Regions from separate parts of the Homo sapiens genome. Here region 1 is linked to region 2. Evidence: fine-mapped expression QTL. Tissue or cell type: whole blood. Region 2 holds a variant in brackets; the other region holds the start of a gene. All regions are shown on one strand. Distances are from middle to middle. Region 1 holds the start of CLEC4F (C-type lectin domain family 4 member F). Region 2 holds the start of FIGLA (folliculogenesis specific bHLH transcription factor).

The links.
Region 1: CLEC4F starts here. The variant in region 2 is fine-mapped to the expression of CLEC4F in whole blood (TOPMed, PIP above 0.99).

What each region holds. Positions count from the first base shown.
Region 1 is chr2:70,811,337-70,826,884 of GRCh38, reverse strand. CLEC4F (C-type lectin domain family 4 member F) reads left to right here and starts at 6,286. Exons shown (of 7, transcript NM_173535.3): 1 at 6,286-6,422; 2 at 6,994-7,110; 3 at 7,441-7,530; 4 at 9,773-10,891; 5 at 14,287-14,438. The coding sequence starts at 6,362. It also overlaps the pseudogene MOB4P1 and a transcript of CD207 not described here.
Region 2 is chr2:70,788,057-70,803,604 of GRCh38, reverse strand. It overlaps FIGLA (folliculogenesis specific bHLH transcription factor), which reads left to right and starts at 12,962. Exons shown (of 5, transcript NM_001004311.3): 1 at 12,962-13,197. The coding sequence starts at 12,967. It also overlaps the pseudogene HMGN2P21. RefSeq lists an enhancer at 2,965-3,519. The variant G/A (reference allele first, on the strand shown) is at 9,731.

The DNA of each region.
Region 1 (15,548 bases), 23 kb before region 2:
GATTTGTTACATTTGAAAGCTTAAATGCTTCCAGGAATAACAAGATCTACAGACATGCAATAGAATTATGTCACTGGAAAACATTTGTCACACTCTTGTGGTTCTTCCTTTATCCTGAACAGCTTCTTGGTTTAGGTATCTTCCTGTATTTTGAGTTCACCTTTTAAAGTTAGAAGCAGAACTAGCACTTACAGCCTTCCTTGCAGAAAAGTGCAGGCATGAGGCTAGATGCTTTGGGAGGCCCTTTGGGAGCCAAGGCAGGAGGATCACTTGAGGCCAGGAGTTGAAGATCTGCTTGGTCAACCCAGTGGGACCCCGTCTCCACAAAAAATACAAAAAAAATTAGCTGGGTGTGGTAGTGCGGACTTGTAATCCTAGCTCTTGGGAGGCTGAGGTGGGAGGATTGCTTGGGCTCAAGAGATTGAGGCTGCAGTGAGCTGTGATCACACCACTGCATTCTAGCCTGGGCTACAGAGCAAGACCCTGTTTTAATTTAATTTAATTTAATTTAATTATTTATTTATTTTTAAAGTGCAGTCATGTGACCCAGGGACCACCGGTCAGATTCAACCATGTGAGACCTTTGATTTGTCCTGGTGTTTTTTCAGAGCTCAGACTAGATTTAGTGCTGCCGTTATTGGAGCATTCCTCCTGCCAGCATAGACTCTAAAGCTTGACTCTGGTCTTCTGAGATTCCATAATTACTACTTATGTCTTTTTTTAATTTTGATTTTTTTGAGACAGGGCCTCCCTTTGCCACTCAGGTTGGAGTACAGTGGCACAATCACAGCTCACTGCAACCTTGAACTCCTGGGTTTAACCAATCCTCCTGCCTTAGCCTCCTGAGTACCTGGAACCTCAGGTGTGCACCACCATGCCCAGCTAATTTTTTTTTAATTTTAGTAGAGATGAGGTCTTGCTATGTTGCCCAGGCTGGCTTCAAACTCCTGAGCTCAGGTGATCCTCCTGCCTCAGCTTCCCAAAGTGCTTAGATTACAGGTGTGAGTTGCCATACCCAGCCATCCCTAATATCTTTTAAATACCTTTTTAGGCTGGGCTCAGTGGCTCATGCCTGTGTTCACAGAGCACAGAACTCAAGGAGAATCACTTGATCACAAGAGTTTGAGGCCAGCCTGGGCAACATAGGGAGACCCTGTCTCTAAAAAAAAAATACAAAACTTAGCCGTGTGTGGTGGCGTGTGCCTGTAGTCCCAGCAAATCAAGAGTCTGAGGTGGGAGAATTGCTTGAACCTGGGAGGTCAAGGCTGCAGTGAGCTGTAATCACGCCACTGTACTCCAGCCTGGGTGATAGAGTGAGACCCTGTCTCAAAAATTTTTTTTAAAAACTTTATATTATAGAATAGTTTCAGCTTTACAGAAAAATTGTGAAGATAATACAGAGAGTTTCTATATACCCACCCTTTCCCATTTCCCCGATTGTTAACATCTTATATTAGTATGGTACATTTGTCACAATTAATGAGCCAATATTTAACTGAAGTCCATACTTTATTCAGATTTCGTTGGTTTTCCCCTAACATCCTTTTTCTCTCCTAGGATCCCATCCAGAATACCACGTTACATTTAGCCATCATGTCTCCTTGGGATCCTCTTGGCTGTGACATTTTCTCAGTCTTTCCTTGTTTTTGAAGACTTTGACAGTTTTGAGGAGCCCACTGGTCAGGTACTTTGTAGATTGTCCCTTAAATGGAATTTGTCTGGTGTTTTTCTCATGATTACATTGGGGTACTGAGTTTCAGGAGGAAGACCATGGAGATAAAGGGCCATTCTCATCACATCCTATGAAGGGTACATACCATCAATAGAATTCATTACTGTTGGCGTTGACCTTGATCTCCAGGCTGGGGTAGTGTTTGCCAAGTTTATTGACTCCAGAATTACTCTTTTCTCCCTTTTCCTGTACTGAACTTTTTGGAAGGAAGTCACTATATGCAGTTCACACTGAAAGAGTAGGAAGTTACACTCTACTTTTCTCAGAATGGGATATTTACATAAAATATTTGGACATTTTCTGCCCTAGAGACTTATCTATTTGTTTACTTACTCAGACATTCATTTATGTCAGTATGGACTCACAGATATTTCTCTTACACTTTGGGTTATAATCCAATACTATTTTATTTGTTTTTTTGTTTTGTTTTTGCTCAAATTGCTCTGGCTTTGGCCATTGGGAGCTCCTTCATTGGTTCCTGTGTCATTTTGACATACTTCCCTCAGTTTTTTTTTTTTTTTTTTTTTTTTGGTAACTAAGCATCTCCTTACTTTCTGGTACTACAAGATGCTCCAGGCTCATCTTGAGTATTTCCTGCCCCAGTTCTAGAGTCAGCCATTTCTCTAATGAGCCCTGGTTTCCTTTTTTTGGAGAATGGTGTTAGAAATCAAAACCTGGGGGCTGTGTGGCTGTTGCTATTTGAACATCATTGCCTCTCCCAGCTGAGAGAGCTAAGTAATATTTGTGTGTACATCTAATTTTTTTTGAAAAGATCATTATGCTTGCACCATGGTGACAGGACTTGAGAGGGGGTAAGAGGAGAGGCAGGGAGAACAGTTAGGAGACGAACGGAATAAAAGCCAGGTGGTTTGCATTCAGGCCTGTAAATGTGTTGAATTGTTGTTGCTGTATTTTGTAGGGTGTAAAATCAGGACACTTTGTACTGCTGAATACAAGTGCTCACATCATGTCAAGAAGCTGTCCCTACTATTAAATAAAATGTCCTGGATTAAAAAACATAAAGAAGAATCCGCCTCTCTCCCTCTCCTGGCTCTGGCTCCCTCTGGTTTGGCTTTAGTCCCACCAAGTAGACTCTTTCTTTCTTTCTTTCTTTCTTTTTTTTTTTTTGGAGTCTTGCTCTGTCACCCAGGCTGGAGTGCAGTGGCACAATCTCGGCTCACTGCCACCTCCGCCTCCCAGGTTCAAATGATTCTCCTGTCTCAGCCTCCCGAGTAGCTGGGATTACAGTCACCTGCCACCATGCCCAGTTAGTTTTTGTATTTTTAATAGAGACAAGGGTTTCATCATGTTGGCCAGACTGGTCTTGAACTCTTGGCCTCAAGTGATCCACCTGCCTCGGCCTCACAAAGTGCTGGTATTGCAGGCATGAGCCACCGTGCCTGGCCAGTTCTTGTATTAATGCCCATTTGTTTTTGTCTGGCCAGAGAACAGAAAGCCTCTCAGTGAAGACATAGCAACCCCCTGGTTTTTCTGCCCTGCTGGTAGATGGTGTTCCTGTGGGAAATAGAAGAGCTAGGGCCCGGAGGGTGGGTGGGGAGGCCAGGGAAGAACTATGCCCCTCTCCTGGCCCAGACTCTGACCTTCCAGTTGGGCAAGGGATCCGTAGAGTTCTGCCTTCGAGGTTCCCTCAGCTCTCAGGCCTCAGGAGGAAATAGGTCCTGAGTAGGTCCAGCCTGGGCCCTTCCTGTGTATGGGGAAACAGAAACCAAGACAAGCCCTTTCTTTTCAGCCACCAGCCCTGGGTGTCTGATGGGCCTCTAGGGAGGCACCTCCAGCAGCTTCCATCCCATTCTATGTGGCGGTGAAGGAGTCTGGCAGACACCACTGGGATCTCAGGCAGCGCTGTTGATAGTCCAGAAATAGGTGCCTTCACCCTTCATTCCTGCTGTGCCCTCCTCTCTAAGGTCAGTTTTCAACAAACAGGAGGTAAAAGGCAGCAAATGGTGGCTCTGCACTCTACACATTGGGCCCCTAACACTGCACAGTTCAACACACACACACACACACACAAACACACACACCCCCACCATCATGAACTGGGTGTGGGCAACCGCTCCCTTCCTGTCTGCAGATCCCCTACCCACGGGGCGACTTGCTTGCCGGGTTGACATCAGCCACGCATGGCACAGGCTCCTCCTGGGCCAAAGCTGTTCTCCTGGCCCGGCCTCAGAGGAGGCACGTTCCGTGTGGCTTCTCCACCTTTGTGGTTGGTCTGCAGTGTTGTTAGTTGGCAGCTGGGGACCTATAAGAGGCTGACCCCAGGATCTGTGCAAAAGACATGAGAATGGGACATAGGAACAGAGGGTGAAAGTAGCAAAGAAACAACACAACATGGATGGAACAAGCCATTTGCAAGGTTGTGAGTTTGTTTAAGAGTTGCTATGATGGTGTAATATGTAATTAGACTTTCCAAAGTGAAAGAAAATGTGATTTATTTCAAAAAGATTGTGACCGTTTGAAGTAATGGAGACAAGAAGGAACCAAAGAACAGGAATCTGCTGGTAACCCCAGCACTGGCTTTTAGAGGGGTTCCTTGACCAGCCATGGGAATATTGGTTCTGTTCAGCTGGTAACCCCTGTGGCAGGGACAGGGACATCACGTTTGCACAGCTCCATGGCACTGTCCACTGGGATGCCTCATGCCTTCTCTTCTAATGCTAGGCCCACCCAGCAGCAGGAACCCCTGAAGCAGTATCTGTTCCTCCTGGAAGGGATAGGGCTCATTGAAAGCCACACATTGGCCCCAGCCTGCTCCATCAGATTCTTTGGAGTTAGTCTTGAGAACCTGGTCACCTCAGGAGGCATGGATCCAATCAGCTAAAGTTGGGGCCTGCTTGGTATTTTCTGACACCACTTCTGACACCAAATGTGTGCTTTTTCCTGACACCAGCCGATTCTCTGACACCCGCTGGGCATCCAACAATTCAAACAGATTCTAACACTAACTTCCAGAGTTAGCACAGATCTCACAGGGTAAGGCCTCAGTCCCACAAGACTGCCCCCCTTCAGATGCTAGCTACAAGTGAGGTAGTGACCCCACTTCTGCCTGGTCAACTACAAATTTGGGGGTTCTGGCTAGGCAAGGTGGCTCATGCCTGTAGTCCCAGCACTTTGGGAGGCTGAGGTGGGAGGATCACTTGAAGCCAGGAGTTCCAGACCAGCCTGGGGTATAAAAAGAGATCCCATCTCTACAAAAAAATAAAAATAAAAAATTAGCCAGGTATGTTGGCACACACCTGTAGTCCCAGTTATGCTGGGGTTATGCTGGATGTGACAGAGGCTGGGATGTTGGGGCTGAGAACTGAGGATCACTTGTGTCCAGGAGTTCAAGGCTGCATTGACTTATGATCGTACCACTGCACTCCAGCCTGAGTGACAGAGGGAGACCCTGTCTCAAACAAAAAATTAGGGGGTTTCTGCAACAACCTCTCAGTTTTCATAATTCACTAGAACAATTCACAGAACTCAGAAAAACACTGTACTTCCTATTCTTTTATTGTAAAGGACAAAAACAGCCTGATGAAGAGGTACACAGGGCAAGGCCCAGTGGGGTCCCAAGTGCAGGAGACTCTGTCTCTGTGGAGTCAGGGCATGACACCCTCCTGGCATGTGGATCACCAATCCCTAAGCTCCTTGAATCTCATTTTTTAAGAGTCGTTATAGCCCAGACCCCAGGCCATCTCCCATACCTGGAGGTCTGGGAGTAGGGAATGGGAGTGGGTGGCTGAAAGTCCCAGTCTTCCAAAGTCTAATCCCATGTTTGGTCTTTCTGGGACCAGCCTCCAGCCTGAAATTATCTAAGGGTCCACCCTGTGTCACCTCATTAGCATAAACCCAAGTGTAGTCCTAAGGGGCTTATTATGAATAACAAAAAACACTCCTGTCACCCAGGAAACTCTAAGCGTTTTAGGAGTTCTGTGTCAGGAACTGAGATGAAGACCAGATATATTTTTTACAGAGTTGTCCCTTGGTATCTGCAGGGGATTTGTTTCAGGACTCCCATGGGTACCAAAGTCCACAGATGCTCAAGTCCCTTGTACAAAATCATGTAGTATTTTTATATAACCTCCGCACATCCTCCTGTATACTATAATTCAGTTGTGAGTCCCCAAGTGGCTGGTCACCCCGCTTCCTCCTTTGACCTGCAAATATCGGCCGCACTGACCTGGCCCCTCTTTTACCTGACTCCTTTTACTTAAGAGGTTCTGAGGCTAGAATTAAAGGTCAGCCATAGTCATAAGGATGTTTTCTGTGCAAAGCTGAGACCCCCTTCCTAGGTGCCAGTCCCAGCCCCCAGAGAAGAAGAGGTGTGTTTGGGGTTATGCTGGATGCGGCAGAGGCTGGGATGATGGGGCTGAGAACTGACGGGAAGGTGCTAATGGGAAGAGGAAGAAAATAGGGCAGATGGGTATCTGGGAGCCTCTAGGGGAGGGGCCCACTGGGGCGGGTTTCTGCAGAGTCAGGCAGGGAGGGAGGAAGAGCTGGGAGGGTGGTCAGGAGCATATAAGTGTGGGTGTCTCAGCTTTGCTTCCACTGCCATTGGTCCACGGGACGGCCCTTCCAGGAGCCAGTGGCTGGGAGCAGTGCTGGAGGATCAAGGAAGCAGAGATGGACGGTGAGGCAGTCCGCTTCTGCACAGATAACCAGTGTGTCTCCCTGCACCCCCAAGGTGAGAAAACTGGGGCCCCAGCTCTTGCCCAGTGAGGGAGTAGCCTGCCTGTCCTTTGGCCCTCTGCCATAAGGCAGCTTATTGCTGTCTTATTGCTCTCCCCAGACCCTTGTCCTTGGGGATGCAGACCTGGCAAGAGAAAGGGGATGAACTTTGAATTCAGATGGTCCTGGCTTGGAATCCCGGCTCTGCACACTGAGCTGGTCCTGTGAGGCCTCCCTCCCTTCCTTTCTTCTTTCATTCAAACTACACTTTTGTTGCTCTGTGCTCTGTGCCAGGTTCTGTGCCCTGTGCACCACCAAAGCCTCCTTGAGATTTGGAGATCGGTGGTCTCGGTCTCAGAGCTCCTCAGCTCTGTGTTGCTACCATATCCACATCTAGCTCTGGTGAACAGCCCAAAGTGTTTTGTCTTCCTTCTCCATAACCACCTGCATGATAAGCATGGCAGGAGTTATCATCCCCATTAGACAACCCAGGAAACAGAATCAGAGAGGCTGTGTCTCAGCCTGCACAGCACCCTCTTACCTTGCACAGCACCCTCTCACCTTGGACACTGCCTTCTCCCCTGCAGAGGTGGACTCTGTGGCAATGGCTCCTGCAGCCCCCAAGATACCGAGGCTCGTTCAGGCTACCCCGGCATTTATGGCTGTGACCTTGGTCTTCTCTCTTGTGACTCTCTTTGTAGTGGGTAAGCCCCCAGGTGACCCAAATCTCACTAACTTTCTCTCCTTTCAGCACAAAGTCCCCAGGGGCCCCAGATGCACACTCTCTGGGCCTCTCTGCTCCCAGAAAGATCATTCCACCTCCAGCTCCAGGCCCAAGCCACAGCTTCCCTGGGAACAGATAAAGGCCACTGTCCAAGGGGGAGCCTCCCAAGAACTGAGGTTCATGAGGGAAACCCTGGGAGGGTCTTTGCTGCTATCTCCCCGGTTCTGGAACTCTACCTCTGTGTGGGACAGCGTATCCTCCCAGGCTCAGGGCTGGGGATTTGCTGACCTGGAAAAATGGAATGTCTCAGTTCAACAGCAGACAAGACCTGTTCCGAAGCCTGTGCAAGCCGTAATTCTGGGAGACAACATTACTGGGCATTTACCTTTTGAACCCAACAGTGAGTAGCCACAGTGGGGGTGGGGTGCAGAGGGAACTGGGGCCTTCAGATGCTCAGACCCTAGGATGAGCTTCTCTCCTGGTACCCTCTGACCACTGAATGGGCTCCACCATCCTCACAGAAAGAGATAATTTTTTAAAAACACAGTTTTATTGAGGTCTAATGGTGTATATATTTAAAGCATACAATCTGTTAAGTTTTGACATATGTGTGTGCCCCTGAAACCATCACCACAATCATCATCACATAGTCATCCTCCTCACCCCAAAGTTTCCTTGTGGCTCTTTGTAATTCCTTCCTCTCCCTTCCTCTCCTCATCCCTGGGCAGCCACAGATCTACTTGCTGTAACTATAGATTAGTTTGCTTTTTCTAGAGTTTTATAGATAAGAGATCATAGAGTATGTACTCTTTGTTCTTTGCTAGTCATGTGATTTGCAAATATTTTTCTCTCAGTCTGTGACTTGTCTTGTCATTCTCCTAACAAGATTTTAATTTTGATAGTCTAATTTATCATTTTATTTCTGTTATGGATTATTCTCATGATCTCGTATGTGAGAAATCTGCCTAATCCAAGGCTACAAAGATGTTCTCCTTTGTTTCTGGAAATTGTACAGTTTTTAGTTTTAGTTTTTGTTTTTGTTTTTTGACGGAGTCTCGCTCTGTCACCCAGGCTGGAGTGCAGTGGCGTGATCTCGGCTCACTGCAAGCTCTGCCTCCCAGGTTCATGCCATTCTCCTGCCTCAGCCTCTGGAGTAGCTAGGACTACAGGCGCCCGCCACCACGCCTGGCTAATTTTTTGTATTTTTAGTAGAGACGGAGTTTCACCGTGTTAGCCAGGATGGTCTCGATCCCCTGACCTCGTGATCTGCCCACCTCAGCCTCCCAAAGTGCTGGGATTACAGGCGTGAGCCACCATGCCCAGCCCGGTTTTTAGTTTTACATTTAGGTCTCTGCCTCATTTGAGTTAATTATTGTATAATGGTGTGAAATTGATTGTTCCAGCACCATTTGTTGAAAAAGTTATCTTTCTCCGTGAATTGCCTTTGCACCTTTGTTGAAATTCGATTGTCCATATGTGTGGGGGTCTACTTCCGTATTCTCCATTCTGTCGCATTGATTTGTTTGTCTATCTTTACAAAGCAGAATCTTTGACTGAACTCCCAGTACCTTGAAAGGTCCCCTCTCTTACCTTAGCACAGTAACTGAGGTCTCACACATCTACATAGGCAGTGCATGAGAAATAGTACATGGATGCTCCAGAAAGGGTCCCTGCCATCTTGGGTTTTTCTCCCTATTCCTGAGGGGAGACTGGAATCAGAAGGGGATCATGGATGTGTGAGATTAGGTCCTAGTTCATGAGGTGAACAAAGGATGCTAGCAGGACCAGAGGTAGATGCATGTGAGGTTGGTGGGAAAGACCTTGCAGATTAAAGGGGCTGTGGGGTCTCCTTCAACGACCCCAGCGCAAGGCCTTTTACTCAGGTTTCCTGTATCCTCAAACTGTTCTGTAGGGACCCTTGCCCTATGTAACACTGGGGGTGCTGGCTCTTTAAAAGGCCATCTCAGCTGAGGTCCAGTGTTAGTTACCTGGAGGGCATGGCATGCCTCTATCATAGCCCTGTTGATTGAACAGGGTACTTCCTCCCAGCACACCTATTTTGTTTTGTTTCTGTTTCTTTCCTTTGTGTTTTCTTCTCCATGGAATTTGCCATCATAAAACTTATGTTTGTGGTGGTTTTTATCAAGTAACAATGGTGAATCAAGAGGCTCTATGCTTGGTGTACAAATATAATGTAGGACTAACCACAGGCTTTATTCATACCTATTTTCTTTCCCATAATGACCCATCTGTGGTGAAATTCCAGTAAAATTAAACTTCAACAGCTCTAAATGATAAAATCAGTTACTTTCAAGTTGAGCAATTATAACGACAAAATAATCCAAGCCTTACCAGCATGACTCCTGGTGGCAGCTGGCTTACAGCAGGCAAGCATTTCAATCCTTCTGACCCCTTCATTTGTGTGTAACAGTGAATTAGATCTTTGTTTCTTGGCCCACATTCTCAGGTGGACCGTCCCCAGGGTCTGGGTGGCTGTGTGACCAGGAGGGTGCTTGGGGGAGCACTGAGGGCTGTGCAGTACCCATTTCCCTTGGAAATGTTAGAAACACTCTGGGTGGCCCATAAAATGCTACCCTACATAATGGGCCTCTTTGGCTGCCTTCTTCACTTCCTCCCTCCAGATCATCACCACTTTGGCAGGGAGGCAGAAATGCGAGAGCTTATCCAGACATTTAAAGGCCACATGGAGAATTCCAGTGCCTGGGTAGTAGAAATCCAGATGTTGAAGTGCAGAGTGGACAATGTCAATTCGCAGCTCCAGGTGCTCGGTGATCATCTGGGAAACACCAATGCTGACATCCAGATGGTAAAAGGAGTTCTAAAGGATGCCACTACATTGAGTTTGCAGACACAGATGTTAAGGAGTTCCCTGGAGGGAACCAATGCTGAGATCCAGAGGCTCAAGGAAGACCTTGAAAAGGCAGATGCTTTAACTTTCCAGACGCTGAATTTCTTAAAAAGCAGTTTAGAAAACACCAGCATTGAGCTCCACGTGCTAAGCAGAGGCTTAGAAAATGCAAACTCTGAAATTCAGATGTTGAATGCCAGTTTGGAAACGGCAAATACCCAGGCTCAGTTAGCCAATAGCAGTTTAAAGAACGCTAATGCTGAGATCTATGTTTTGAGAGGCCATCTAGATAGTGTCAATGACTTGAGGACCCAGAACCAGGTTTTAAGAAATAGTTTGGAAGGAGCCAATGCTGAGATCCAGGGACTAAAGGAAAATTTGCAGAACACAAATGCTTTAAACTCCCAGACCCAGGCCTTTATAAAAAGCAGTTTTGACAACACTAGTGCTGAGATCCAGTTCTTAAGAGGTCATTTGGAAAGAGCTGGTGATGAAATTCACGTGTTAAAAAGGGATTTGAAAATGGTCACAGCCCAGACCCAAAAAGCAAATGGCCGTCTGGACCAGACAGATACTCAGATTCAGGTATTCAAGTCAGAGATGGAAAATGTGAATACCTTAAATGCCCAGATTCAGGTCTTAAATGGTCATATGAAAAATGCCAGCAGAGAGATACAGACCCTAAAACAAGGAATGAAGAATGCTTCAGCCTTAACTTCCCAGACCCAGATGTTAGACAGCAATCTGCAGAAGGCCAGTGCCGAGATCCAGAGGTTAAGAGGGGATCTAGAGAACACCAAAGCTCTAACCATGGAAATCCAGCAGGAGCAGAGTCGCCTGAAGACCCTCCATGTGGTCATTACTTCACAGGAACAGCTACAAAGAACCCAAAGTAAGTGGGAGAGGGGAGTCGCGTTTGGGGAGGGCACAGTCTCTTGAGAGGGTAGAGTCTTCCATCTCATCAGCCTCTTTTTTACTGCAACATGCATCTCCTTGACCAAATCCAGGGAAATGGGCCCAAGGAAACTGGGCAGTTGTAGAGATGGTGTGAGGTGGGAAGTTCCTGCTCTCAAGTTGCTTATAACCTGGTCACGGTGACCAAATGAACACGGGAAACCAACTGTAAATGGTGCACGTGTGTGATAAGGACGGCATGGGCTAGTGGGCCACACAGCCTTATTTCTGACTTCCTGATACCCCAAATGGTATGACCTTGAGCCTGTTACTTACCTTCTCTGAGCTACACTTTTCTCATCTGCAAGGGGGAGACAATAATATTTGCATCACAGTGAGGATCCAATGAGTTCACACATGTAAGGCCTTTAACAAAGTACCTAGCATTCATGCCCTCACCCGATGCTTTATTGAGGCCCAGTGGTGTGCTGGGTAAAAAGGTGAATAAGGTGTGATAGGTACCCTTGAGAAGCTTACAGGCTAGTAGTACAGACTTGCATGAAAGACATACAGACAGGTATAAGGCTGATAGGTTAGAAGCAGGTACTGAGAACTGGGGTTGGGGGCAGAACAAAAAGAAGGGAAAAGGAATCTTCTAGGGGGAGGGAAGAGATCTGTGGGGAAAAGATCAAAAGATGCTTTGTGAGAAGATGGCTCTTGAACTTCATCCTGAAGGATGAGTAGGTGTTTGCCAAGCAAATAGGGTTTGCAGGCATGGAGACACAAAATCATGAGATTCTGGAAACTTCAGGCAGTTCTCTTTGACTGGCCTGTGGACAAGAGGGCAGCTGAGAGACAGAAGGGAGTGTTTGGGGCAGCCACTGAAGAAATGGGGGCTAACAAATGAGGGCTTGGTGGGCAGCAGTGACGTTCCACTTTACTGCTTTGCCCGGTTCCTGGTCTGGGGTCAGAGGCCCCACTTCTTCACACATCTCCTAGTGCCCCAATGTCCTTATTCCTCCCAGCTCTCACTGCTGCTTTAGCTGGGCCCAGTGTTTCTCCACTTTGGGGGCACACTGGAATCGCCCAAGGAGCTTTGAAAATACTGATGCCTGGGGACCCACCTCCAGAACTGTGATTTTTTTTTTTTTTTGGTGAGGGTGTCTGGCATCAGTATTCTTTTTTAAATGCCTAGGTGGATCTACTGGCATCTGGGCTGAGAACTATTAGCTTAATTTTTTTTCTTAAAGGACAAAGAACTAGATATCTTAGGCTTTGGGGCTGTACGATCTCTGTTACAACTACTCAACTCTGTTCGTAATTATAAAGCAAAAGAAAAAGACAGTAAACTAATGAGCATGGCTACGCTCATAATAAAATAAATTTTATTAAAAAGACACTGCTGACAGGCTAGAGTTTGCCAATGGTTGGTTTAGATGACTAGTTCTGGGCATCAGAACCCCCAGAGGGCTTGCTGAAGCAGATTGTTAAAACATAATTTTGGATTCAGTAGGGCTATGGTGGTCCTGAAAATTTGCATTTCTACCACGTTGTCAGGTGATGCTGATGGTCTGGGACCACACTTTTCGAACCCCTGATTTATACCCATCTCTTACTGGGACTTTCGCCATTGTGTTATCATTGGTGTTTCTGTCCTCATTAGGAGTACCTTCTTCTGGTTCAGCTTCCACCAGGTTGACGTTTTTCCAGTGCAAATCTGGACATATTACCATCCTTCTCAAAACCTTGCAGTGCTTCCCATTGCTCATAGGGAAAAAAAAATCCAAACTGTTTCACATGGGATGTACCATTTAGTGCTGGTGAACCTGTCCAAATTCATCACTCACCCATCCTTTATGTCCCAAGAATACCAAGTAGCTTGAATAGATCAGGCTGTGCCCGGCTGTTCCTGACCTTTATGCCTTTGTGCTGATCCTTTTCCCTGCCTGGGGTGCTCTCCTTAACATTGAACACCTGGCAAACTCTTCCTCAGTCCCTTAAGACTCAGCTCCAGACGGGGCACAGTGGCTTACGCCTGTAATCCCAGCACTTTGGGAGGCCAAGGCAGGCAGATCACCTGAGATCAGGAGTTTGAGAGCAGCTTGGCCAACATGGCAAAACCCCATCTCTACTAAAAATACAAAAAAAATATCCGGGCATGGTGGCGGGCACCTGTAATCCCAGCTACTCAGGAGGGTAGGCAGGAGAATCGCTTGAACCCGGGAGGTAGAGGTTGCAGTGAGCCAAGATCGCACCATTGCACTCCAGCCTGGGCATCCATAGCAAAACTCTGTCTCAAAAAAAGAAAGAAAGGAAGAAAGAAAGGAAGGAAGAAAAAGAGAGAGAGCGAAAGAAAGAAAGAAAGAAAGAAAGAAAGAAAGAAAGAAAGAAAGAGAAAGAAAGAGAGAGAAAGAAAAAGAAAGAGAAAGAAAGAAAAAAAGAAAGAAAGAAAAAAAGAAAGAAAGAAAGAAAGAAAGAAAAGAAAGAAAGAAAGAAAAAGAAAGAAAGAGAGACTCAGCTCCAGTAACATCTCATCCAGGGTGTCCTTCCTGAGCCCCACCTCCTGCTCAGATGAAACAGACCATACCTTCTTCCGTGACTATTCTACTGTGCATGTGTTTTTTAGTCAATGCATCTTCAACACCTTTTTTCCATCTGTCTCATTTATTAGGCTCTAAGTTCCTTAAGGGCATCAATCATGTCTGATTGATCTTTGTACAGTATGGCAGTGGCTAGCTGGAAGAAGTTAAGGAACGTTGCACAATGCACGTTGAACAAAAGAACAATTTGGTGATTAATTGAGCTTGTGCGGCACCATTTCAAACAGCTGTGGCATAGATGACGCCAAAGAGCAGGCTGTTGTGGCAGGGAGGGAAGAAAGAGCTGACAGAATTGGGGCTTGTGCTCACAGGATGAGCTATAAGAGTTTGAAAAATGGAAGGCCAGGCAGACCAGGTGATGACCAGGTCCCAGGATGGCCATGGGTGTGGCAGTGCAAGTGGATGGAGATGAAGACAAGGTAATGAGTAAGGCTATGGGATACCTGTAAAATCCCCAGGGAAGATGGCAGGAGTTGGGGTGGAGAGGACTGTCAGGTGATAGCAATGAGTTGGGAGAGAGGGCAGGATAGCCAGGAAGCAGGTATCTGGAAAGAGAGAGCTGCCTGAGCCTCCCAGGAGTGCCCAAGCCAGGCGTCTTGAGGGCTGCTTCCTGGAGTGCTGGGTAGTGAGATGGCAGTGCAGCCCCCCAGGCCTTTCTCCTGGAGCACTGCACATCAAGAATTTCATGGGCTTGTGAACCTCAGTGGGCAGGCCCTAGAGAGGTCAGAAAAGTTCCTTCTGGGACTCCTACCAGCAGCTCCTGGTTCTCTTTTCTCCCCAATCTTTGCTCCAGGTCAGCTTCTCCAGATGGTCCTGCAAGGCTGGAAGTTCAATGGTGGAAGCTTATATTATTTTTCTAGTGTCAAGAAGTCTTGGCATGAGGCTGAGCAGTTCTGCGTGTCCCAGGGAGCCCATCTGGCATCTGTGGCCTCCAAGGAGGAGCAGGTCAGAGCTGCGAGCATGGGGTGTTGTTGGTGGAATTGGTGTGGAATAAGGGACTTTGGTGTTTTGGCCTTCCTGCTCTCAGTGGGTATGACGGAGACCTCCATGTCTCCTCTGCCAGGCAGGGAGCAAATATTGAGTGAGTTCTGATGAGCATATGCACTGGAGGTAGAATCCCTGACAGCAAACCTCCATGTCTTCCATGAATGAGGGAGACACCAGAGGTCAAGAGACATCAGCAGGGAGGAAGGCCAAGGGGAGGTGGCATCAGGTGATGCCCTTAAGTGCTAGGAGCACACTTCCCTTCTCTTGCATTTGTTTTTCTCTCAGGCTTGTTTCCAGTCATCTTTTTTTTGGAGACAGTGTCTCGTTCTGTCATCCAGGCTGGAGTGCAGTAGCCTGATCATGGCTGACTGCAACCTTGACCTCCTTGCTCAAGCGATCCTCCCACCTCAGCCCACTGAGTAGGTCAGCTCCCCAAGTAGCTGTGACTACAGATGCACGACACCATGTCTGGCTAATTTTGGGGAGTATTTTTTTTGTAGAAATGGGGTTTCGCCATGTTGCCAAGGCTGGTCTCAAACTTATGGGCTCAAGTTATTCACCGAAGTGGGCCTCCCAAAGTGCTGGGAGTGAGCCACTGCATCCAGCCTGTCTTGATTTTAATGTCAGTTAATCCAGCTGCTGTAGAGGGCCCATGAATAGGAGACCCAGGCTTCTTGGGAAGACCAGGCACACAACTATGGGTCCGAGGACCACCAAACGCAATACCGTCCCAGGTGGCTCACTGTCGTGGTCCTTATCAGAACTTGCCAGGATTACTAACAAAGAACCACAATGTTTGTGGTCCAATTTGACTTGCAGAACTGCCTACCCCCCTGTTGGCTCGCCTGAGACCACTGTTACTGGCCTGAGAAAGAACATGCAACTTCGTAAAACACATCTTCTTAATAAGCTATGGGAGGTGCTGGCACTATGGTCATGGCAGAGGGGATGGCAGTGCTGAGGCAGAACAGGCAGGGCACCAAGGCACAGGATATCTATAATTGGCCTGATGAATCCTTTGATAAAATGGACAGTACACTAGCTGCTCAACAGTCTATTCAACAGAAC
Region 2 (15,548 bases):
TTAGTGACATATAGCCCTTCCCCCAGAAAAAACAACGAAGTGTTCTGTGTGCTAACAACATAATAGCTTTAAAAAACAAAGTAAAACAAAATTCTGCATTTTTATAAAACTTGATAAAAAATAGTATTTCAAACTGTACAGTCACCAGAAGTACACAGTTATCAAAAATGCACACACTTCACTTGGCCTCTCCATCACCTTCAGCTTCCCTGGCCTGGTCTGTTATGGCATCTCCTTTTTCTGCAGGGTAATTCCCCTCCTTGCCAGCATCAGCTTTTCCCTTTTTCCCTTTAGGTACCTTCTCTCCCTTCTTTGCAGGGGCCTTTTTAGGCTTGGGCTCTGGCTTTGGAGGAGCAGGTTTAGCAGACAACCTTGTGGATCTTCTCTGAGGTGTGTCCACCTTGGCTTTATCTCCTTTAACATCCCCTTCGGTCTTCCTCTTGGGCAAGGTGGCGGCGGTGACAGCAGTGGGACTTAGATGCTGGGCCCGGGATGCAGCGGCGCACAGGCTTTGATCGGTCGGGGGGTCATTCTCGCCTCTTCTTCTTCCATTTCAGTTACTTTGTTTAATGTCTAAAGATTCATAACTAACTCCACCCAACCAACCCCCACTGTTTTTTGAGACTGGGTCTTGCTCTGTCAACCAGGTTGGAGTGCAGTGGTGAGATCTTGACTCACTGCAGCCTTGACCTCTCAGTCTAGGTGATCCTCCCACCTCAGCCTCCCAAGTTGCTAGGACCACAGGCGCATGCCACCACACCTGGCTAATTTTATTTATTTTTTGTAGAGATGAGGTCTCACCATGTTGCCTAGGCTGGTCTCAAACTCCTGGGCTCAAGCAATCCTCTTGCCTTGGCCTCCCAAAATGCTGGGATTACAGGCATGAGTCCCTGTGCCTGGCCCAAGATCCAATAACTATTGTTTTGTTGTTGTTGTTTTGTTTGTTTGTTTGTTTGTTTTTGAGATGGAGTCTTTCTCTGTCACCCAGGCTGGAGTGCAGTGGTATGATCTCGGCTCACTGCAATCTCTGCCTCCTGGGTTCAAGCGATTCTCCTGCCTCAGCCTCCTGAATAGCTGGGATTACAGGCATGTACTATGCCTGGCTAATTTTTGCATTTTTAGTAGAGACAAGGTTTCTCCATGTTGGCCAGGCTGGTCTCGAACTCCTGACCTCAAGTGAGCTGCACACCTCAGCCTCCCAAAGTGCAGGGATTACAAGCCCAGCCACCAAGATCAATTAACTATGAAATCTACTTCGGGAATTTTACTTTATATCAATAATTATTCCTTCAAGGAATGTTCATTGCACCTCTACTATGTACCAAGCACTCTTCTAGATTTTAGGGGTTCAACAGTGAACCAAACAGACAAAAATCCCAGCCCTCATGAGGCTAGCATTCTAGCAGGGAGCAGAGGTAGTTAGTACATTCAGCCCCTTCTCACAACCCCAGGAAGGAGTCCTGTGGAGAGGTGATGGTGTGGAGCAGCAAGGAGCTGTCATAATCAATCCAGCCAACCTTGCCCTGCCGTCTAAAGGTAACAAAGAAGTGGCTGGACTGGGGCGGGTAAACAGGAAGGACTCCCTCCTGCCAACTCCTCAGGGTCAATTCTCATGTCCCCGCTGCCCCCTTCTCTCCTTCAGGGGAGGTTCCGAAAGCTGCAGTTTCCTCAAGAGAGAGGCAGAGGAATGAAGTTCTCCATAGACTGACTGGAACCATCTGGGGAGACAGAGTGCAGTTGTCGGGTGACCTGGGGGACGTGGCCGGCTTGTCTCACTGGAGGGCCTGCCCGCCCTGCCTCCACTGTGGGAACTCTGTACAGCTGCCACTCTCTGTGACCTTGGGTTGTTTTGGTGGCACTAGCAGGCTGTGACAGACAACTGCCACCACACAGGGTATGATGTTGACACTCAGGTGCCCACAGCCTTCTCTCCCAGAGATTTTTAGTCTTTCCGGGCATGAGGCTCACCGTGGAGTCTGGGGTCCCACTCATTGTGCTTTAGGGGACAGCCTGACTCTAGCATAAGTAGGAGAAGCTATAGACATTACAGTTGTTACGAAATGACTCTCAGACCTGGTTTTCCAGGGGCAGGGAGAAGTTTCTCACATTCTGGAGGAAGATGTAACAGCATTTTGAGGATGAGGGATGTCACTGGTTTAGAGGAAAATCTACACTTGCTTAGTCAGTAATTTTGATGTCTACCAACAAATGCCCAGCCCTTTTCATGCACTAGATACACACAGCATTCACTGCTCTGACACATGAATTTGGGCCTGGGACCAACCCTTCCTGTGTGCCTCCACCATGCCTCTCAGAAGGACCCTCTCTTTTGTGTATTGTTCTCACTTATAAGAGCCAGTTATAAATTTTTCCACCTTGCCAGCCAGCAATTCCTGCTGCAGCTTAGGCAACCAACTCCAAGGACCTCCCCATCCCCAGTGAGAGTCCCAGGCCCCAATGAGAGTCACGGAAGAGTAAGGATGCCTTGGCTTCTCTTGGGAGGCACGAGGGTCCATGTGCTTTAGGATAGCCAGAGGGTCCATGCCATCTGGCTTCTTCCTGCAGGACAGGGCCCCAAGCAGCAGGCTGTCCATAGTGCAACCCTGCCTCACTCCCCAAAGCAGCTGCATCTCACTGCCTCTTGAATCTCCCCAAAGCCCTGCTTTTGTTGCAATCTTTGACTTCTTAGACCTGACAAGCATTTTCCACTCTCCACCATACAGGTGCCAGGACTGGGATCCCAGGCCCTCTTCAAGATGACCCCAATGAGCTTTTCATCACACTTCTGCCATGGGGTCACTGGAACTGAGCCAAGCCCCTTAGTGTCTCCTCAACCAGCTCTGATTGTAGCTTCTGCATTGGTGCTCTGACCACCCCTTAGCCTGGGTCACTTAGGATTTGTCTGTATGATAACCACATTTCTGGACTTTCTATTTGGTTCATAAATCATGCTACCATTAACTAACAACATGGTGGGGGTTATGGGAGGCAGGAGAGCTTGGAGGTTATAGACCCAGGCCCTGAGGCCAAACACTCTGGGTCCGATCCCATTTTCATTCCTTTCTAGCTGGGAAAGCTGGTTCATTGACTTTCATGTTTCAGTTTCCTCTTCTGTGAAATGGAAGTAACTACAGTACCTCCTTCGTGGGGGTGCTGTGACAATTAGGAAAGTCAATGCATAGGACGAATTTAGGATAGTGCATGGGACACGGATCCCACTGTGCAAGCATTAGTCGTGATTGTTTTGCTGATGGCCTACTTCACTCCTCACTTCACTTCTGAGGAAGGCTCTATTAGAACCCTCACTTTACAAATGGGGAGATAAAGCCCAGAGAGTTTGGATGATGATGTGGTTTGTCTCTGTGTCTCCACCCAAATCTCATCTTGAATTGTATTCCCATAATTCCCACCTGTTGTGGGAGGGACCCGGTGGGAGATAATTTGCATCATACTGTTCTCTTGGTGGTGAATAAGTCTCATGAGATCTGATGGTTTTATCAGAGGTTTCCACTTTTGCATCTCTTCATTTTCTCTTGCTGCTGCCATGTAAGAAATGCCTTTCATCTCCCACCATGATTCTGAGGCCTCCCCAGCCATGTGGAACTGTAAGTTCAATGAAACCTCTTTTACTTCCCAGTCCTGGGTGCGTCTTTATCAGCAGCATGAAAAGGGACTAACATAGTAAATTGGTACCAGGAGTGAGGTGTTGCTGAAAAGATACCTGAAAATGTGGAAGCGACTTTGTAACTAGCTAACAGGCAGAGATTGGAACAGCTTTGAGGGCTCAGAAGAAGACAGGAAAATGTGGGAAAGTTTCCAACTTCCTAGAGACTTGTTGAATGGCTTTGACAAAAATACTGATAATGATATAGACAATGAAATCCAGGCTGAGATGGTCTCAGATGGAGATGAGGAACTTCTTGGGAACTGGAGCAAAGGTGACTCTTTTTATGTTTTAGCAAAGAGACTACTGGTATTTTGCCCCTGCCCTAGAAATTTGTGGAACTTGGAACTTGAGAGAGATGATTTAGGGTATCTGGTGGAAGACATTTCTAAGCAGCAAGGCATTCAAGAGGTGACTTGGATGCTGCTAAAGGCATTCAGTTTTGAAAGGGAAGCAGAGCATAAAAGTTTGGAAAATTTGCAGCCTGACAATGCAATAGAAGAGAAAATCCCATTTCCTGAGGAGAAATTTGAGCTAGCTGCAGATATTTTCATGAGTAATGAGGAGCCAAATGTTAATCCCCAAGACAATGGGGAAAGTGTCACCAGGGCATGTCAGAGACCTTTGTGGCAGCCTCTCCCATTACAGACCCAGAGATCTAGCAGGAAAAAATGGTTTTTTGGGCAGGGCCCTGAGTACCTGTACTGTATGCAGCCTAGGGACTTGGTGCCCTGCGTCTCAGCTGCTCCAGCCATGGCTGAAAGAGGCCAACATAGAGCTTTGCAGTGGCTTCAGAGGGTGCAAGCCCCAAGCCTTGGCAGTTTCCACGTGGTGTTGAGCCTGCAGGTGCACAGAAGTCAAGAATTGAGGTTTGGGAACCTCTGCCTAGATTTCAGAAGATGTATGGACGCCTGGATGCCCAGGCAGAAGTTTGCTGCAGAGGCAGGGAACTCATGGAGAACCACCGCTAGGGCAGTGCAGAAGGGAAATGTGGGGTTGGAGCTCCCACGCAGTCCCTACTGGAGTACCACCTAGTGGAGCTGTGAGAAGAGGGCCACCGTCCTCCAGACCCCAGAATGGTAGATCCACCTACACCTTGCACTGTGTGCCTGGAAAAGCTGCAGACATTCAATGCCAGACTGTGAAAGCAGCCAGGAAGGAGGCTGTACCCTGCAAAGCCACAGGGGTGGAGCTGCCCAAGATTATGGGAACCCACCTCTTGCATCAGCATGACCTAGATGTGAGACCTGGAGTCAAAGGAGATAATTTTGGAGCTTTAAAATTTGACTGCCCTGCTGGATTTTGGACTTGCATGGGCCCTGTAACCCCTTTGTTTTGGCCAATTTCTCCCATTTGGAATGGCTGTGTTTACCCAATATCTGTACCCCCATTGTATCTAGGAAGTAACTAGCTTGCTTTTGATTTTGCAGGCTCATAGGCAGAAGGGACTTGCCTTGTCTCAAATGAGACTTTGGACTGTGGACTTTTGGGTTAATGCTGAAATGAGTTAAGACTTTGGGGGACTGTTGGGAAGGCATGATTGGTTTTGAAATGTGAGAACATGAGATTTGGAGGGGCCAGGGATGGAATGATATGGTTTGGCTCTGTGTCCCCACCCAAATCTCATCTTGAATTGTACTCCCATAATTCCCACGTGTTGCGGGGGGGACCCAGTGAGAGATCATTTGAATTTTGGGGTGGTTTCCCCATACTGTTCATGTAGTAGTGAATAAGTCTCACGAGACCTGATGGTTTTATCAGGGGTTTCTGCTTTTGCATTTCCTCATTTCTCTTGCCACTGCCATGTAAGAAGTGCCTTTGGTCTCCCACCATGATTCTGAGGCCTCCCCAGCCATGTGGAACTGTAAATACAATTAAACCTCTTTTTCTTCCCAGTCTCAGTTATGTCTTTATCAGCAGTGTGAAAATGGATGAATACAGATGACTTGCCTGAAGGTCATACAAACGCCCTGCTGCAGAAGGTCCCCCTTGACAGCCATGGCCCTCTGCCTGTAGCCCCCACTCTCTGCTTCATTTTCTCAGCTCTTCTGCAAGGCCACTGCAGCTCACATGGCTGTAAGCTTCCCAGGGCCTCTTCACGAGGCTGTAGGTCTCTCTTTATGTCTTGTCAGGGCTCTGAAGCACAGCAGCACCAATGAGAAGCTCTTGAGCTAAGGGGCTCTGGGAAGGGAAGGTCTTTGGCCAGTTTCCTGGAGACAAAGCCCAAGGGCAGAGTCTCTGTGCCTGTTCCTTTTCTCTGTTCTCTGTTCTCTCTCTGAGAGGCACTTTTGAACTTCTTTTAACCCTGCTGGTGGTGTAGACAATACACTAATCCCAGCTCATGTTTGGTGGGGGTGGAGGAAGAGAAGGCCCCCAAGGGAAGTGAAATAATCCACATAGCAAGCAGGCAGGACCTGTGTGCCGGGACCCAAGCAGCTGGAAATGTGAGGCTGTGCTGAGTGTTCTTGGGTTGGAGGCCACTCAGACTTGGAGGAAAGAGAGCTGCAGTGAACGTGAATGTGACAAACGTGCAGTGAATGTGACAAAGCTGAGTTCTAGACTTGGCTCTGCTACTGACCGGCAGCGTGACCTTGCCCGGTCATTTAACTCTATCAATTTTCTCATGTGCACAATGGGAGGAAAGTCTAATGCCCAGGATACAGTGGGATAAAATTATAATGCTGTGTCAAAAATAATATATCATCATAACAATGTGAATTTATGTGAATATGAACAACATGAAATTGCCAAATCGATTTGGATGGGAATTCTGGGCAATATAGGCTTGACTATAGTCTTTGGTCCCTGTTTAAAATGCATTCTTGGTCTTCCTTTACTAAAGCTGCTTTTTTAGCAGCTCTTTCTTGTCTTGCCTGAGCTAATGGGAGAAAGGTGGCATGTGTGAGCCACAATGTGGTCACCGTGATAAGGGATGCTGAGTGCCCAGGAGGGCAGACCCAGCAGGGGAGAGTTCTTCTCAGCTAGGCCTAGGGTAACTAACGGGCAAAGACTGACAAGGTGGACCGGCTGGAGATGGAGCGAGGGCAATTTCTCTGTGTCTCGTAGGAGAAGATAATGTGGATTGGCTGCCTCCACCTCATGCCTTTTGGCACTGCAGAAGCTTCATTTTTCAGAATTAGGACCCAGTGTTCTGAATGCCAATTAAGATGATTTAATTAGAAACTGTTGTAGGACATTGAGAGGGTGAAAGTGAGGCAGAGCTCACCTTCCTGTCCTTTTGTATATTTTCTGTGGAAAGCAAGGAGATGGGGCCAGGCGTTTCTCCACCACCGTGTCCTAGGCCCCTTCCCCACATTTGTGGGGTTGATGGCAGTGGCAGTGGTGTGTTCTCAAACTCAGAGCTCCTCCTGCCTCTCCAGCCCTCTGATGGTTGTGTAAGCAGCAGGATCCTGAATGAAATCCTTTGGCATCTGCTTAGAATAGCTAGAAGAGCTTCTGAGCCTACACTGAGCCTTGCTGGGGGGAATGGCCTGAGGTCTTTGCTGCTGCAAGGCAGGCTCCCTGCAGAGGCCTCTAAGGGGACAGCTCAGGAATGACACCCCACCTACCTTATCTCTCTCAATCCCTTCTGGAAGGGGTGGGGTGGGGTGATGAGGCACCTGGGGTGGGAGTTCCTGAAAGGAAGGGATGGCTTGTTAAAGAGGTACTGCTTAAAAAAAAAAAAACAACAACCCTGAAACCCTGGGGGTTTTTTTTCACTCTGCTTAACATGATTACCTCTTCCTGGCTTTAGGAATATCATTCATAGGCCCCTTTGCACAAGTAAAACAGGCTAGAGTATTGAAAGCCTAAGGGAAAAACAAACAAAAATGTCCCCCTACCCAAAGTCAGAAAAATTCAAATGCTCCAAATCCAGGGGTCCAAACTGAGATTCTGCTTCCCTGGCCTGCTGGAAGCCTCTGCCTGGAGTGTGTCCTGATCACTGCTAAGGTTCCCCCTCTTTCCTTCCTGTCCCTGCCCTCCCCTTCCAAGGCAGGATTCGGGAGGAGTGTTGTTTAATTGTCCCCAGGTAGACAGAGCAGTCTTGACCTTTCCTTAGCCGCCCACAGGCATGGAGGGAAACAGCTTTTCTAGCAAGAGAAGTGACAATAATGGTGACATTTGTTAGCATTCAATATGTGCCAGCCTTAAGTCATCATCTCACCCAGCCTTATGTCATCAGGCAAAGGTGAAGAGTTCCTTCTTACTGCATGCCTTCTAACTCTCCCTAAGTGAAAAAATAGCTTTCTTAATTTTAAATGAAAAAAAAGTGTTATTTAAAGCCAGTATTAGGGGAATTTTCTCTTTAAAATGGCATTTGACCAAGAGTCTTCTCATTTCCCTCTAAAATACATAATAACACACAGAAAAAGGCAAAACTGACAGCAGCAGCAGAAACCAAGACAGGTAGTAACTCAATTGCCAGAGAAATTTTACCGACTACCTGTAATAGTCATGGAGCTGAGGTCAGAAACATGATTTGAAGCAAGCACATGTCTTGCTTTTTGAAACAGAGCAACAATAAGAAATTGGTAAAAGGTCCTTTAGCCTTATCCTGCTTTTTGCACCATTGACTCAGAGACCTAGTGTCTGTATCAATCAGCAAACTAGACAGGGATCCCCTTTCTTCAAGGCATTGTGTTTTGAGATAGCTGTGTGTCCCCATCCTTACTCCAAGGGTGGACTCCATTCGGCTGGCATTGTACTGGACTACAAGGTATTTAGGACTCAGGAAACAAAAAAGCAGTAAAGAGAGGATGTTATCAGTTGCATCCCAAGAGGTCTGGTCCCACAAAGGAAGAGCAATAAGCAGGAATAGCAAACACAAGGAGAGCAATGCATTCTGGGACCTAAAGATGTTCACATACTTCAGGCAGCCTGGAACAGGAAACTCCCTACTAGACCCATAGAGCAGTATAGGATGAATGCAACTGAGCCAGTACTGTGTATATCAACCATAGTATATCACCAGCATCTAAGAGGACACTTATCCTTCAATTTTCCATGGCAGAGAGATCTTCCTACTTTCTATGTAAACTTAGGTAAGCTTTTTCATTCATCTATTTATTTATTCACAAATATATATTATAGGGTCAAGCAGCTATGGCAAAACGTGAAAGATTTTACCTGAATAAGCAGGTTCTTATTTTACCCATGTCAAAGTAGCTTTTTTACTTCATTGCAAGCATCATTCATTCATTTGCCTTCTCACTCATTCAACAAATGTTTATTGCATGTCTACTGTGTGCCAAGCCAGCACTCCGTAGGTGCTGGAGATGCTGTGGCCAGTGATCCTCCTTCAAGGAGCCAAAATAAGAGAAATAAATGATCTCGCAGAGGCTTATGGGCACTACTGGAGCACAGAAGAGGGGCACTAGGACAGAGACTCCTGTTGTCAACCAAATGCGTTCTCCCCATTGAACAGAATTGTAGCCAGGCACATGGCTCCCCAGTCAGACTACATTCCCCCACCCTTTCTTGCATCCGTGTGTAGCCATGTGTGAATTCCTGCCAATGGCATGTGAGTTGAATCCTATGTGCCACCTCTGGTCAGGCCTTAAGATCTCTTCCGTGCCCTTCTCCTGGAACCCAGATACGGTGGCTACCGAGCCTCAGCCATGCCAATGATGACAATGCTGTAGGGGAGTTGACCCTAAGGGATGGAAGAACAATAATTTGGAAGGAACCTAAGTCCCCAAGTGACCTTGAGGAGCAGAGCTGACCTAAACCTTTCACACTGTTAGAGGATAGTGAAACTTTTTGTTCATTAGGCCATTGTATTATTGGGTGTATGGCAAGGTATCAGCCCTAAGTCACCATCAGGTGTAACACTTTAGCTTAAATCAGTTCACATGATTGCTTTCCCTGAGAACAATGACATAACGTATGAATCTAACAGACCAGAGGCCAGAAAGTTAAGAGTTGGAGTTTATGGAAGAACACAGGTATGAAGGAATCAAATCTGGTGTGCTCACAATGGGTTCCTAATGTACACCACCTTGTTCACTGCAAGGTTTGGCAATAAAATAGAATAATATCAATGATGTCCTTTATGATGCTTTCAAG[G/A]AAAGTTAAGTAAATGGGTAAGCTATCTCCATTTTAAGCTTTTTCCCACACTTTTGGCCCTTGTTGCTTTCCATCTGCCTGCCAGCAGACAACACCAAATGAACTTAGCGCAAACAAAGTATTTTCCTACTTAAAAATATATTTTAAATTACAGAAGTGGCCCGTGTTTATTGTGAAATAAGCTATATAGAGGATGTGATGTGCAGTCACACTTCCCCATTCCCAGGCCATGCTCAAGGAACCTCAGTCAAACATTTGGTGTGTCCCCTTCTTTCCTTTGACCTTTCCTGGGAGGCAATGTCAGAGTGGGAGCTGAAGAAGGGTGGGGCCTAAGAGGTGGCTGATGTGGTTAGAAAATTGGTTAGGTACAGGGATTGAGCAAATAAGTAATTACACTGAGGATAATGTGAGTCAAGCTTCTCATTGTTGGAGAAGGGAGTTACAAAAGCAGATATGGGGTGAGGAGTTACAAAAAAGGAAAGCAGAGAAACTAGAGGGAACCTGAGGTGTTGGGTTGGAGTTGGAGGTATTAGTGTGAACTCATGGTTTTAAATATATATGTACTTAGATACACAGATATAGTTATTATATGCATTATATTATATTAGAGGATATTATATGCATTATTATAATATAATACATGCATGTGTACTTACCTACATATGTGTCATATCTGCAAAAAGGGCTTAGAAGCAATGACATCCCAAAAGGAATGAGCAAGCAAGCACACAGATCTTGGTTTCTAAATCCTACCTTCCACTAAAAGAAGAATAGACTGATCCCTGGGCTGGGGCTGGGAAAATTCAAGAAGAGCCTTCCTGGGACAAGTGAGAAAGTGCACAAAGAATGAGGGAGTCATATGAAAAGGACAGAGGAGCCAGCTTAGAGGGCCTCCCATAAGCCAAATCTGAGACAATTTGAGCATTAACATAATGATGTAAATAAATTATATCCTGTGACTAAAATAGAAATTCATGAGCCCATGCTGACATAAATACAAAATGAATAAATAAATGGGAAGAAGGGAAAGCTCTTTTTCACAGTAGAATGCCAATCATTTGCCTCTAATTGTAGTGCTGGTTGATTCAGGTAGGAGTCAACAATGGATGAGAAGGAGTATCTCCTCACAAAATTTTTTTTTATTTTTATTTTTTGAGACGGAGTCTTGCTCTGTTGCCCAGGCTGGAGTGCAGTGGCACAGATCTAGGCTCACTGCAAGCTCCGCCTTCCGGGTTCACACCATTCTCCTGCCTCAGCCTCCTGAGTAGCTGGGACTACAGGCACCCGCCACCGCGCCCGTCTAATTTTTTAATATTTTTTAATAGAGACAGGGTTTCACCATGTTAGCCAGGATGGTCTCAATCTCCTGACCTCGTGATCCGCCCGCCTCAGCCTCCCAAAGTGCTGGGATTACAGGCATGAGCCACCGTGCCTGGCCCACAAAATATTTATCAATTTATGGTGAAAAAACCTGACACCACCACCTTGACCAGGCGATTAAGGTTAACATCACCAGTGGTGGGGCAGATCAACCTCATGTACTTCCTGATGTGATGCACTGAGAAGAGCCCAGCATCATTTATATGGAGCCCCTCCATGAAGGCATGGCTGGGGTCTGGACATGAGCAAATAGTGGACAACCCCAGGTCGAGGGACATACTACAGAATGAAAGGCCCCTACTCTTTTAAACTGTCAAGGGCATGAAGACAGGACAAGATGGAGGAAATGGTCCAGAATGAAGGAGAGTAGAAATATGACAACAGAATAAAACTTGTACTCCTGGATTGGATTCCAACCAGAAGAGAAAAAGACATTGTTGAGACAGCTGGTGGTACTTTGATGGGGTCCATGGATTGTATGGTAGCACAGTACCAATGCTTACTTCCTAGTTTGAGTGGTTGTGTTGCGGTTATGTGGAAGAGAGGCCTTGTTTAGGGGGAATACCCACTGGAGTATTTAGAGGTGATATGACAGCATGTCTGCAACTTAAAAACTTTAAAAAAAGAATAGATCAATGGATGCAGCTAGACGTCATTATTGTAAGGGAACTAACACAGAAACAGAAAACCAAACATTGCCTGTTCTCACTTTATAAGTGTGAGCTAAACATTGAATACACAGGGACACAAAGATGGAAACAATAGACACTGGGGTCTGCTTGAGGGGGAAGTAAGAGGGGGGCGTGGGTTGGAAGGATACCTATTGGGTACTAGGCTCACTACTTACGCCACGGGATCATTCGTACACCAAACCTCAGCAACACACAATTTACCCACTTAACAAACCTGCACATATACCCCTGAACCTGAAACAAAAGCGTAGAAAAAATATTTTCTCAGACCAAAGAAAAAAAAATGTATTTCTATGCTTGGAAGGAATGATTTTACAGAGGGCTTCCAGAAACATGTCTGATTTTCAGGTGCAAGATCAGAATGTTCCAGTTATATTGATAACCTCCAGAGAAACAAACTCTCATGAGTAATCTACTCAAAACAGAAGATGTAGTTAATTATTTCTAGAGTACTAAATTGTACTCTACTATTAAACAAGTTTGGGATCGCTATTTTCCAGCACATTTTCTGAAGTAACAACTGTGTTTGGCTGTGTTGACAATAAAGGTCTGTGTGGAAAAGGGGGAAAATGAATAAAGCGATGTATCCCCCCACTCGCGAAAAAAGAAAATAGTTCAAATAGAATGGAAAAAGAATAATGAAAATGAGAATATTCACAGCGAGAAAGAGGGCAACGGAGCAAACGTGAAAACTTAGCAAGTAGAGAGCGTGGCGAAGGGGGTACAGGAGCTCTTAGAAACTCTTCTTGCCATTTTCCCCGCAACTTTTATTTCAAAACGAATTCTTAAAAAAGTTTTGTGGATATCCATCACATTTTTCTGTATACACATAGCCAGAAGCTCAGGCCCCAAGACAGATTGATTAAATGGGAATTTGGGGGACTGGAACCGTGGCATGTGGATTGAGAAAAACACCACTACCACGCTCCCGGCGGTTCCAGGTGTGCAGCCGGGGCTGCGCTCCAGCGCTCCCGAGTCACACCTGTGCGGCTTATTCAACGCGATGCCTGGACGCAGCCTCCAGAGAGGAGGCCGGGATTGGAATACGCAGCCGGGGAATGGTTGCAGGTGGTCCAGCTCCCGCCCCCGCCCCGCCCCCGCCCGGGCCTCGTGCGGCCCCGGGTGCGCAGGTGAAAGCCCGGCCTCAGCGGCCTCGGCCCTGCCATGGACCCCGCGCCCGGCGTCCTAGATCCCCGCGCCGCGCCGCCCGCGCTCCTGGGCACCCCGCAAGCCGAGGTGCTGGAGGACGTGTTGCGGGAGCAGTTCGGGCCGCTGCCCCAGCTGGCCGCTGTCTGCCGGCTCAAGCGGCTGCCCTCGGGCGGCTACTCGTCCACTGAAAACCTCCAGTTGGTGCTGGAGCGGCGGCGTGTGGCCAACGCCAAGGAGCGTGAGCGGGTGAGGGATCCCTAGGGTCGACGTCCGTTCCCCCCTTCCCTGCTCTACCACCAAACACCTGGTCAACACCCGGGGGTCCGCTCACCGCCCACCCCCGCTCGAGGCGACTTCGAGCTCCCGAGGCCTCCCACGCCCCCAGCTTGTCAGGAGAATGGCAGTGGCCTCCTTCTTCTGCACCTCCGTGCAGCTGCTCGTTGGCGGCCGCTGCGGTGGCCGCCTCGCCCGCTAACCCTCCAGGATTTGTGCAGGACCCGGGTCTGGGAGGGGACAGAGGAGGGGCCCTGACAACTTCAAAAATGTCTCCCTGGGCAGGTGCTTTAAAAGCTTCGCGCCCAGGGGGTGCGCCTTCATCTCACACCGTAGGCGCTGGTGGGTGCTTGGGACGCGCAGGGATCCCCTTCGCTCCTTTTTCTTGCTCTCTGCATCTCGGCCTCGAAGCACACACGAGGGTGAGGAGAAAGGGGGGCCTGACGGAAGTGACTTTTCTTTTTTAAAGTAACGAAACACGACGTCCCAGTGTGCACCCAAGACTCCCACTCAACTCTGTCAAGATAAAGTGAGTGTTTCCCAGTCGAGCCGCAGCAACTCGCAAACGGGAAGGGTCCTGTGGGCCGTGGTTGGAGCGGCACCTGCTGGTAGATTTTACTATCTAACGAAACTCAGCCCCAAACTTGGGAGACATGGTCTCCTTCCTAGCGTTTGCAGTCTACGGGTTTGGTTGCAGCAGAGGCGAATCCAGGAGAGAGAAGGGTGAGGGGTAGAAGAGGGAGCAGAGCGCACGTTCAGGACTGGGACTGGGGAGAGAAGTACCGCCCGGGGCTGTTCCTAGGCCTTTCAGAAATGTCCCAGTGAATCAAGTAGGAGCTTTGCAGGGAGAGGGCAAGCGCAGAAAGGACGACAGGAGAGTAGGAGACTTCTTTAAGTCTCCTCTTTTACCAGTACTAGACTCTTGATGGACAGAACCCTGTGATCTGATTCGGTGGCCCTACAAAGAGATTATGATCTAATAGTTTAAGTGGTCCTTCCCACCAGGAAGGAATTGTCTTCTCCAGAGAATCAGTCCTGGTTTTATCCACTAAAACACGAATAAGCTTTATTATTCTTTATAATGATAAGGTTAACACACTTGGAAAAGACAGAAATGAGTGAAGAAGTTAAGAGACACAACACAGATATAACTACTGTGAACATTTTTGTGTATATCCACCCAGTCTTTTTCTAGTTTTGTGTATTCATATATATATATATATAATTTTTACAAAATATTCAGTACATATTTGTGTAATTTTTTCCACTTAACATTATCAAAAGCATTTTCTTATATTCTTAAGTATTCTTTCAAAGAATAGTTTTTGACTGCATAGTCTGTCCAAAAATGGACCATAATGTATTCAGTCTCTTATTGTTAGGCATGTTTGCTGTTTGTAGCTTTTTACCGGTACCTATCGGTGTAACTCTATGTGCGTGTCTGATAATTTCCTTAGAATAAAATGCTACAAGTGAAATTACTGAGACTTAAGGCATATACAATGGAATGGCTTTTGATACAAGTTACCCAATTGCTTTCTAGATAGGTTTACTAATTTTTATCCCTTCTTACAGGTCTAGGACTGTTCTCTTTTTCAAGCTATCCCTTATCCTGGGTATGATAAAACAAAAATGTTACCACCTTGATACATAAAAAATGGTATCTAATTTCTGTTTTAGTTTGTAGTTCTTTGATTATTAAATTCTTTTTATACACTGAGTGGTTGTTGTATTCTCCTGTGAATTGGCCAACTATGTCCCTTGTCTGGTTTGCTCCAGGGTAGGATATACTCAATATATATTGGCTTTGTGGCATAGTGGGAGCCAGTTCTCCCAAGGCCTGTATCTCCCAGGGGGATGAACATCAGAATTATAGGCCTTCAGAGACAGGGATTAGACTCTGGAGAAGAGAGAAAAATAAAATATGAGGAGCCTTTGAAGTCTCACCAACTCTCTGGATTCTCACCCTTGCCTCTATATCATTAACTCAGTGGGGAAAGAGTTTGAAGAGCTGATGGCTCAGTGCTTGAGTTGACAAGTATTTGTACATTTGATTCATCACCAGCAATACCACTTCTTGAGGACTTTCTATGTGCCAGGTTTGGGTGAGGTATCTTATTTGTACATTATATCACTTAATCACACCCCCCAAAAAGCTTTAAGATATTTTCCATTTTGCAGATGAACAAACAGGCTTAGTGATGTGAAGTATTCCACACACTCTTGTAAATGATAGACCTGGATTTTAAACCTGGGTGTAGTTAATTCATATTTTAGCCACTCCTCTACTGCCTCCGCATTATGATACAGCGGGTATGCTCTCA